Linked DNA regions of Homo sapiens: region 1 is linked to region 2. A link means that fine-mapping ties the variant in region 2 to the expression of a gene that starts in the linked region. Tissue or cell type: tibial artery. Region 2 holds a variant in brackets; the other region holds the start of a gene. All regions are shown on one strand. Distances are from middle to middle.

Region 1 (5,371 bases), 26 kb before region 2:
TTCAAGACCAACCTGGGCAAAATAGTGAGACTCCATCTCTACGAAAAATTTAAAAATTAGTCAGATGTGGTGGCACATGCCTGTGGTCCCAGCTACTTGGGGGACTGAGGTAGGTCAATCGCTCAAGCCCAGGAGGTGGAGACTGCCGTGAGCTGTGACGGCACCACTGCACTCCAGCCTGGGCAACAAAGTAAGGCACCCTGTCTCAAAAAAAAAAAAAAAAAAAAAAAAAAAAAATCCAATGATACAAATAAAGACAAAGTGGACTATAAGGGTGCAGACACTAATGGATTATCACCAACAGAAATCTTAGAAGAAAAGAAACACTAAAGCATTTTCCCAAAGGAGCTCATCATTTTAAAAATGGACTTGACAATATGAAGCGCCTTCTTTGTAACTGTCTCTGACCTTCTCTGAGACTAGAATTCAGAATAGATAATTTAGACATTTACCTGATACTAATAAAAAATACATATCTATATTTAAAATATAGTTAGTTATATTTAATGACCTCATTCCCAAGTTCCTTTTTCATTAGTGTAGCTTTCATTTCTATTATCGCTGTTTTAATAATATGATTTAATATGATTAGATAGAAGCTTTGAGCCAGTAGACACTATGTTACTAAATCAGTACTTTAAAATCTTTGGTCTTCTGTCTTTCATTCATATGAATTTAACTGCTGTTTGCTCTAATTTCTTTGAGTTCTCCTAGTTTGAGTAGAGTACAATTTTACTGTGAAACAATGCAGCGAGACTGTGCTATGAAGTGAAGGTAGAGTTTTTGGAGGTGATAATGATGTCAAACTTAAAGATACAATTCCTATCCAACACAACAGAGCACCTTGTCCAGGAGAGTAGTAATTACTATTTATTGCTCTGTGGAAGATAAAAAAGATAGGGAAATAGGAGAAGCTTCTTTGAAAAATGAAACATCATTAGACGGGCTTGGTGGTGCATGCCTGTAATCCCAGCTACTTGGGAGGCTGAGGCAGGAGAATCACTTGAACCCAGGAGGCAGAGGTTGCAGTGAGCCGAGATTGCACCACTGCACTCCAGCCTGGGTGACAGAGTGAGACTCCATCTCAAAAAAAAAAAAAAAGAAAGAAAAAATGATATCTAATGTAATAATGAAATTTTAACCCTTGTTGCATTTCTTGTATTCCTATGAATGTATTGAACATTCAGTTTAAATAAATAATAAAATTTATTGCAAATGAAAATAATTAAAATATTATATAAATTGTTATATTTGTTTACTATACAAACTTATACATGAATAGTATACAATTAAAATGATAATGAATAAGAATGCATATAAATGCTAGTAGGAAGGGCTCAAGCAGGAAAACAAAGAAAGGCAGAAGGAATGAGAAGGCTAGAAGCAGAGGAATGCCAGGAGAAACAGAGACATGTGGGCCTGAAGGCCTGGGAGCTGAGAAGTGAGTGGTGGCCCACACAACCTTGCCAAGGATCCCATATCCAGGCCAAGGCAGGAGGCTACAGTCCCTGCTGGCATAGCTGTGCCCAGACTAGCTGCCAATCTCTTCTCCTGGACAATGTGCACTTTGTGTCCATCAGCCCTCAGAATGTGTGGTGCTGTTCACTCAGCCCCTCAGCAGGCCCCTGAGAGGAGGTGGGGCCATGTCCTTCCTCCAGCCAGAGGTGGGGGGTCCTGCCATGCTCTGCCTTAGAGCCTGAGATTGACTTGTCAAGCTATGTGAGAACATTTCAGTCACTTCTCTGTCTTCCTGTCAGGAGGGTGTGGCTGAGGCTTGTTTACCTACTGTTGGAGTGTGGAAGGGACTGATTCTTTAAGGGACCTGGGGAGTCAACCACTGCCACACCTTGCAAAGACTGGCAGTAATCGGTAAAAATAATAACTAACTCTTATACAGTGGTGTGAAGTTCCACGAGACATTAATAGTTTGGCATCTCACTTAATTTTCATGATATTTAGAAACTCAGGAAGCTGAAAGCCAGATGTCTACATAGGCTACATAGCTTGCTTAAGACTAAAAGTCCAGAGAGAGACAGAGGCTAGGATTCGATCCTAGATCTTCTCCTTCCAAACTCCATACCCTTTCCACCTTACCACAACCAATCAAAAAAATAATTATCGAGAATGCTTAACTCCATACTATGGTATTTGAGTGAGAAAACATAACGAAAAAGATGCGAGACATCCCACACCATGCCCCCAGCAGACATCACTAGTCAATCACAGTACAATTTCCTCTTGCCAGCCTCAGCATCTTTAAAAGAGTCTCCTTTATAATTGATCAGAATTGTCACTTGGGATAAAAGCTATTTTTTGTAAGTGCCTCCCTTAAATCTCTTGAGCAGGCAAAGTCGACACACATGAAAGTCTTGGAAAGCCAAAAGAGGTGCCTTAGAATCAATAATCAGGTGTAAAGCGCTGGGATAGATAGAGATTCTGTGCCCAGAAGGAGTTCTGTGTAGAAGAAAGTACGACTAGGACAGCCTTCACAAAGGTGTTAAAGACACTTGTAGAATGATTTTAATTTAGAAGATGGAGAAAGAGGCAACCCTGGCTGCCCCTCACCTGCTCTCCACCTGGAGAGCTTTTAAAACTGGCTGCCTGGGGCCCCTCCCAGACCAGTTAAATCAGGCTGTCTAGGGGTGGAGCTTGGGCAACTTTTGTTCTTTTCAATCTCCCCAGAGGTTAGGTTTCCGAAATGCAATGGGGTTGAGAATCATAATAACAAATGCACAGAGGAGGCCCGGAAAGAGGCACCTCCACTCACCTTCTCTGCTTCAGTCATGTTCTTCAGGATAGTGTACATGCAGCCAATGTTGAAGCAAATCCGGGAGTGGGGGTCCTGGACGGCACTGAAGGCATCCAGGGCTCCCTTCCAGTCCTTCTTGTCCGCTGCCAGCACCCCTTCATTCCAGAGGCTGATGGCCTCCACCAGGGACATGATTAGGTAGAAACTAGGAGGCCAAGAGAGCTGCCAGGAGACAGAGAGAAGACAGGTTGGAGCGTCTCCCCTAGCAGGGCTGCCTTAGTGGCCCCCAAGGTGTTCACTTTCTGGGCCAGATGAGTAGAATGGGGCCCAGCCTCCCTTAAGATAACTTCTCAGTGTTGCAAATGCATCAGGAAATGTCCCCACCTTTTGGCAACTGACTCATAACCCTACCATGAGAGAGAAAAGGAAAGAAGCAGAGAGAGAGAGGGCGAGTAGGGGTGGAGTGTGGAGGAGAGAGGAAGTACATCAGCTGCTGCCTGAAGGATCAGTTCCCCAAAATGCTTCTGCTCTGTCACCCAGCTCCTCTTCTCTCTCCCACCCCTGTTCTGTGGCAGCTTCTGGCCAAAGTTCTGCTTCTAGAGCCAGGGTAACCTTGGCAGGTAGAGGCACCTCCCTGGTGATAATGACAGGAGGCAGCCAAATGCCTAGGCAGATAGGGGCAGGTCCCTGGTGAAACCCCACCTTCAAGCCAAAAACAGCCTGAAGGCTGAAAGACTAGGCTACTGGTCCCAAATGAAACCCGTGACCTAGAGTGAGAACTTCTGTTCCTGTTTGTCTGCTCTTTCCCAATTAATTATTTCTGACTAATGCCTTTTAACCAATTGAATGTTGCCTTTTCCAGTACTACCTATGTCCTGCCCCTCCCCTATTCTGAGCCCATAAAAGCCCCAGACTCACCCGCACTGGGGGGACTTTCCTGCCTTTGGGTAGGGGAACCACCCCTGCATCCCCTCTCCACTGAAAGCTGTTTTCATCACTCAATAAAACTCCCCACCCAGGCCGAGTGGGCAGGCCATCTCCTGCAGCAGGTAGTGTGGCCCACTGAGGCCTGGGCAGGGTGTCACCAGCCAGAGGTTCCTGGCTTACAAAGTGATGGAGAAAAAATCCTGTGTCACTGGGCCTTGATTTCCACACCCTTGTTAAATGGGAGTGTCAGATGAGAGGATAATTCTTTCCAGTCTTGAATGAATTCCTTGCTCACTTTTTTGTAATCCCATAGGCTGTATTAATATGTTAGTGTTTATCTTGAGCTGAAATTATCATTAACAAATTTTTGAGACAGGATAATCTTTGGAGATCCATCTGATCTGGGCCTGAAATAACTTTTTTTTTTTTTTTTTTGAGACGGAGTTTCACTCTTGTTGCCCAGGCTGGAATGCAGTGACACGATCTCAGCTCATTGCAACCTCTGCCTCCTGGGTTCAAGCAATTCTCCTGCCTCAGCCTCCTGAGTAGCTGGGATTACAGAAGCCTGCCACCACGCCCTGCTAATTTTTGTATTTTTAGTAGAGATGGGGTTTCACCATGTTGGCCAGGCTGATGGTCTCGAACTCCTGACCTCAGGTGATTCGGCCTCCTCGGCCTCCCCTCAAAGTGCTGGGATTACAGGAGTGAGCCACCGTGCCCAGCCGAAATAACTTTTATGAACATTCATGAAGTTCAGAGGGGACCAATTTCCTGCAAATGTCAAAATTGGGAGCCACATGACAGTGAATTATGACTTCTCCCATCTTCCAGTGAAAAATTGAAGAGATGAAAGTCCTGCACTGATGACTAATGGATTTACTAGTCTCTGAAAAAACAGATTTAAGAGTTCTTTCCTTGCTTTTCCAGAAAAGTAAAAATCAGTAAAACCTCCCAGAGGAATAACTGGGGGTAAAGGGTATAGCCAATTTGGCTTGCTAAAATCCAGGCTTCTTTTTAGGTAAAATGCATGTTTATGGGGGTCAAATACTTAGATGCAAACTCTTGTTTTGTAGCAACTGAAAGAATTCACTCATTATCACCAAGCTTCCCCTAAAAGCCTGAAAATAAAACTTAAAAATGTATACTCCACAGTGCTTGTAGGATTGAAGGTGTGAGAATTAAGAAGACATGTGTGTCTTTGTCCAGATTGTTTTCCTGTGTTTACAAGGCCTTCCCAGCTCTCTTCTTTGCCTGGCAAACTCCTACTCATCTTTCAAAGCCCAGTTTAAATGTCACCAACTGTGCTAAATCTAGCCCTGAACTCTGGGTAGTAGGAGAATTTTCCTCTCCTTTGTACCACCTTTACCCAAAAACTTGCATCATACTTACTGCAATTTATCTCTTTATCTGCTCAATTCATGGGCTCCTTGGAAGTTGGGACCATGCCTTTTCATTCTAGGATCTCTAGCACAGATACTCAATACATGATGAAGGGATACATTCTAAAAGAAATTAGAAATCATTGGTAAATGACCTGCAGGTAGCAGTGATGGCAGAAAGAGGTATTGCTATTCCATCTAGTGAATAAATAATCAGGACTTGAATAGCACATTAATTATTCCTGAGAAAACCAAATGGATTTGTAGCTAAATTAGACTTCATTTTTAAAAAATGTTTTTGCCCTCCTATTATCCC
Region 2 (5,371 bases):
GCCCACCTGCACCCAGGTGAAATAAACAGCTTTATTGCTCACACAAAGCCTGTTTGGTGGTCTCTTCACACAGACACGTGTGAAATTTGGTGCCGTGACTCGGATCGGGGGACCTCCCTTGGGAGATCAATCCCCCGTCCTCCTGCTCTTTGCTCCATGAGAAAGATCCACCTACGACCTCAGGTCCTCAGACCGACCAGCCCAAGAAACATCTCACCAATTTCAAATCCGGTAAGCGGCCTCTTTTTACTCTCTTCTCCAACCTCCCTCACTATCCCTCAACCTCTTTCTCCTTTCAATCTTGGCGCCACACTTCAATCTCTCCCTTCTCTTAATTTCAATTCCTTTCATTTTCCAGTAGAGACAAAGGAGACATGTTTTATCCGTAGACCCAAAACTCCGGCGCCAGTCACGGACTGGGAAGGCAGCCTTCCCTTGGTGTTTAATCATTGCAGGCACACCTCTCTGATCATTCACCCATGTTTCAAAGGTGTCAGACCACGCAGGGACACCTGCCTTGGTCCTTCACCCTTAGCGGCAAGTCCCGCTTTTCTGAGGAAGGGGCAAGTACCCCAACCCCTTCTTTCCTTGTCTCTATCCCTTCTCTGCTTTTCTGGGGAAGGGGCAAGTACCCCAACCCCTTCTGTCCTTGTCTCTACCCCTTCTCTGCTTTTCTGGGGAAGGGGCAAGTACCCCAACCCCTTCTGTCCTTGTCTCTATCCCTTCTCTGCTTTTCTGGGGAAGGGGCAAGTTCCCCAACCCCTTCTGTCCTTGTCTCTACCCCTTCTCTGCTTTTCTGGGGAAGGGGCAAGTACCCCAACCCCTTCTCTCATTGTCTCTACCCCTTCTCTGCTTTTCTGGGGAAGGGGCAAGTACCCCAACCCCTTCTGTCCTTGTCTCTACCCCTTCTCTGCTTTTCTGGGGGAGGGGCAAGTACCCCAACCTCTTCTGTCCTTGTCTCTACCCCTTCTCTGCTTTTCTGGGGAAGGGGCAAGTTCCCCAACCCCTTCTGTCCTTGTCTCTACCCCTTCTCTGCTTTTCTGGGGAAGGGGCAAGTACCCCAACCCCTTCTCTCCTTGTCTCTACCCCTTCTCTGCTTTTCTGGGAGAGGGGCAAGTTCCCCTCAACCCCTTCTCCTTCACCCTTAGCAACAAGTCCCACTTTTCTAGGGGGCAAGAACCCCCAATCCCTTATTTCCACACCCCAACCTCTTATCTCTGTGCCCCAATCCCTTATTTCCGTGACCCGACCCCCTTCCCACTTTTCGGGAGGGCAAGAACCCCCGAACCCCTTCCCTCCATGTTTCTACGCTCTCTTTCCTCTGGGTTTGTCTCCTTCACTATGGGCAACCTTCCACCCTCCATTCCTCCTTCTTCTCTCCCTTAGCCTGTGTTCTCAAAACTTAAAACCTCTTCAACTCACACCTGACCTAAAACCTAAATGCCTTATTTTCTTCTGCTATGCCGCTTGACCCCAATACAAACTCGACAGTAGTTCCAAATAACCAGAAAATGGCACTTTGAATTTTTCCATCTTGCAAGATCTAAATAATTCTTGTTGTAAAATAGGCAAATGGTCTGAGGTGCCTGACGTCCAGGCATTCTTTTACACATCAGTCCCTTCCTAGTCTCTGTGCCCAGTGCAACTCGTCCCAAATCTTCCTTCTTTCCCTCCCGCCTGTCCCCTCAGTACCAACCCCAAGCATCGCTGAGTCTTTCTAATCTTCCTTTTCTACAGACCCATCTGACCTCTCCCTTCCTCCCCAGGCTGCTCCTCTCCAGGCCGAGCTAGGTCCCAATTCTTCCTCAGCCTCTGCTCCTCCACCCTATAATCTTTTTGTCACCTCCCCTCCTCACACCTGGTCTGGCTTACAGTTTCGTTCCGTGACTAGCCCTCCCCCACCTGCCCAGCAATTTACTCTTAAAAAGGTGGCTGGAGCCAAAGGCATAGTCAAGGTTAATGCTCCTTTTTCTTTATCCCAAATCAGAAGTGTTTAGGCTCTTTTTCATCAAATATAAAAATCCAGCCCAGTTCATGGCTCCTTTGGCAGCAACCCTGAGATGCTTTACAGCCCTAGACCCTAAAAGGTCTAAAGGCCGTCTTATTCTCAA[T/A]ATACATTTTATTACCCAATCTGCTCCCGACATTAAATAAAACTCCAAAAATTGGAATCTGGCCCTCAAACCCCAAAACAGGACTTAATTAACCTCACCTTCAAGGTGTACAATAACAGAAAAAAGTTGCAATTCCTTGCCTCCACTGTGAGACAAACCCCAGCCACATCTCCAGCACACAAGAACTTCCAAACGCCTGAACCGCAGCAGCCAGGCCTTCCTCCAGAACCTCCTCCCCCAGGAGCTTGCTACACGTGCCGGAAATCTGGCCACTGGGCCAAGGAATGCCCTCAGCCCGGGATTCCTCCTAAGCCACGTCCCATCTGTGTAGGACCCCACTGAAAATCGGACTGTTCAACTCACCTGGCAGCCACTCCCAGAGCCCCTGGAACTCTGGCCCAAGGCTCTCTGACTGACTCCTTCCCAGATCTTCTCGGCTTAGCGGCTGAAGACTGATACTGCCCGATCGCCTCAGAAGCCCCCTAGACCATCACGGATGCCGAGCTTCAGGTAACTCTCACAATGGAAGGTAAGCCCGTCCCCTTCTTAATCAATACAGAGGCTACCCGCTCCACATTACATTCTTTTCAAGGGCCTGTTTCCCTTGCCTCCATAACTGTTGTGGGTATTGACAGCCAGGCTTCTAAACCTCTTAAAACTCCCCAACTCTGGTGCCAACTTAGACAATACTCTTTTAAGCACTCCTTTTTAGTTATCCCCACCTGCCCAGTTCCCTTATTAGGCTGAGACACCTTAACTAAATTATCTGCTTCCCTGACTATTCCTGGACTACAGCTATATCTCATTGCCGCCCTTCTTCCCAATCCAAAGCCTCCTTTGCGTCCTCCTCTTGTATCCCCCCACCTTAACCCACAAGTATAAGATACCTCTACTCCCTCCTTGGCGACTGATCATGCACCCCTTACCATCTCATTAAAACCTAATCACCCTTACCCCACTCGACACCAATATCCCATCCCGCAGCACGCTTTAAAAAGATTAAAGCCTGTTATCACTCGCCTGCTACAGCATGGCCTTTTAAAGCCTATAAACTCTCCTTACAATTCCCCCATTTTACCTGTCCTAAAACCAGACAAGCCTTACAAGTTAGTTCAGGATCTGCGCCTTATCAACCAAATTGTTTTGCCTATCCACCCCGTGGTGCCAAACCCATATACTCTCCTATCCTCAATACCTGCCTCTACAACCCATTATTCTGTTCTGGATCTCAAACATGCTTTCTTTACTATTCCTTTGCACCCTTAATCCCAGCCTCTCTTTGCTTTCACTTGGACTGACCCTGACACCCATCAAGCTCAGCAAATGACCCAGGCTGTACTGCCGCAAAGCTTCACAGACAGCCCCCATTACTTTAATCAAGCCCAAATTTCTTCCTCATCTGTTACTTATCTCGGCATAATTCTCATAATAACACACGTGCTCTCCCTGCCAATCGTATCCGACTGATCTCTCAAACCCCAGCACCTTCTACAAAACAACTCCTTTCCCTCCTAGGCATGGTTAGCGCGGTCAGAATTCTTACACAAGAGCCAGGACCACACCCTGTAGCCTTTCTGTCCAAACAACTTGACCTTACTGTTTTAGCCTAGCCCTCATGTCTGCGTGCAGCGGCTGCCACTGCTTTAATACTTTTAGAGGCTCTCAAAATCACAAACTATGCTCAACTAACTCTCTACAGTTCTCATAACTTCCAAAATCTATTTTCTTCCTCATACCTGACGCATATACTTTCTGCTCACCGGCTCCTTCAGCTGTACTCACTCTTTAAGTCCCACAATTACCATTCTTCCTGGCCTGGACTTCAATCTGGCCTCTCACATTATTCCTGATACCACACCTGACCCCCATGACTGTATCTCTCTGATCCACCTGATATTCACCCCATTTCCCCAAATTTCCTTCTTTCCTGTTCCTCACCCTGATCATGCTTGATTTATTAATGGCAGTTCCACCAGGCCTAATCGCCGCACACCAGCAAAGGCAGGTTATGCTATAGTACAAGCCACTAGCCCGCCTCTTAGAACCTCTCATTTCCTTTCCATCGTGGAAATCTATCCTCAAGGAAATAACTTCTCAGTGTTCCATCTGCTATTCTACTACTCCTCAGGGATTATTCAGGCCCCCTCCCTTCCCTACACATCAAGCTCGAGGATTTGCCCCCACCCAGGACTGGCAAATTAGCTTTACTCAACATGCCCGAGTCAAGAGACTAAAATACCTCTTAGTCTAAATAGACACTTTCACTGAATAAGTAAAGGCCTTTCCTACAGGGTCTGAGAAGGCCACCGCAGTCATTTCTTCCCTTCTGTCAGACATAATTCCTCAGTTTAGCCTTCCCACCTCTATACAGCCTGATAACAGACCAGCCTTTATTAGTCAAATCAGCCAAGCAGTTTTTCAGGCTCTTAGTATTCAGTGAAACCTTTATATCCCTTACGGTCCTCCGTCTTCAAGAAAAGTAGAATGGACTAAAGGTCTTTTAAAAACACACCTCACCAAGCTCAGCCACCAACTTAAAAAGGACTGGACAATACTTTTACCACTTTCGCTTCTCAGAATTCAGGCCTGTTCTCGGAATGCTACAGGGTACAGCCCATTTAAGCTCCTGTATAGACGCTCCTTTTTATTAGGCCCCAGTCTCATTCGACACCAGACCAACTTAGACTGTGCCCATAAAAACTTGTCATCCCTACTATATTCTGTCTAGTCATACTCCTATTCACCATTCTCAACTACTCATACATGCCCTGCTCTTGTTTACACTGCCGGTTTACACTGTTTCTCCAAGCCATCACAGCTGATATCTCCTGGTGCTATCCCCAAACTGCCACTCTAAACTCTTGAAGTAAATAAATAATCTTTGCTGGCAGGACTATGCTGAATGTCCTTAGGCACTCTCTAATCAGATGTCCTAGGTCCTCCCAATTCTTAGACCTTTTATACCTGTTTTTCTCCTTCTCTTATTCCATTTAGTTTTTCAATTCATACAAAACCGTATCCAGGCCATCACCAATCATTCTATACGACAAATGTTTCTTCTAACAACCCCACAATATCACCCCTTACCACAAGACCTCCCTTCAGCTTAATCTCTCCCACTCTAGGTTCCCACACCGCCCCTAATCCCGCTTGAAGCAGCCCTGAGAAACATCGCCCATTCTCTCTCCATACCACCCCCCAAAAATTTTCACTGCCCCGACACTTCAACACTATTTTGTTTTATTTTTCTTATTAATATA

What was found. PIP is the estimated chance that this variant, and not a neighbour inherited with it, causes the effect. A credible set is the group of variants that fine-mapping cannot tell apart.
Region 1: NCF2 starts here. The variant in region 2 is the best candidate, but not a certain one, in a credible set for the expression of NCF2 in tibial artery (GTEx, PIP 0.73).

The regions. Positions count from the first base shown.
Region 1 is chr1:183,587,389-183,592,759 of GRCh38, forward strand. It overlaps NCF2 (neutrophil cytosolic factor 2), which reads right to left and starts at 3,071. Exons shown (of 15, transcript NM_000433.4): 1 at 2,768-3,071. The coding sequence starts at 2,941. It also overlaps the pseudogene C18orf32P1. RefSeq lists enhancers at 3,091-3,350, 3,461-3,800.
Region 2 is chr1:183,613,559-183,618,929 of GRCh38, forward strand. No RefSeq gene overlaps it. Among named protein-coding and RNA genes, the nearest start is that of ARPC5, 20 kb to the right of the region's middle. The variant T/A (reference allele first, on the strand shown) is at 2,112.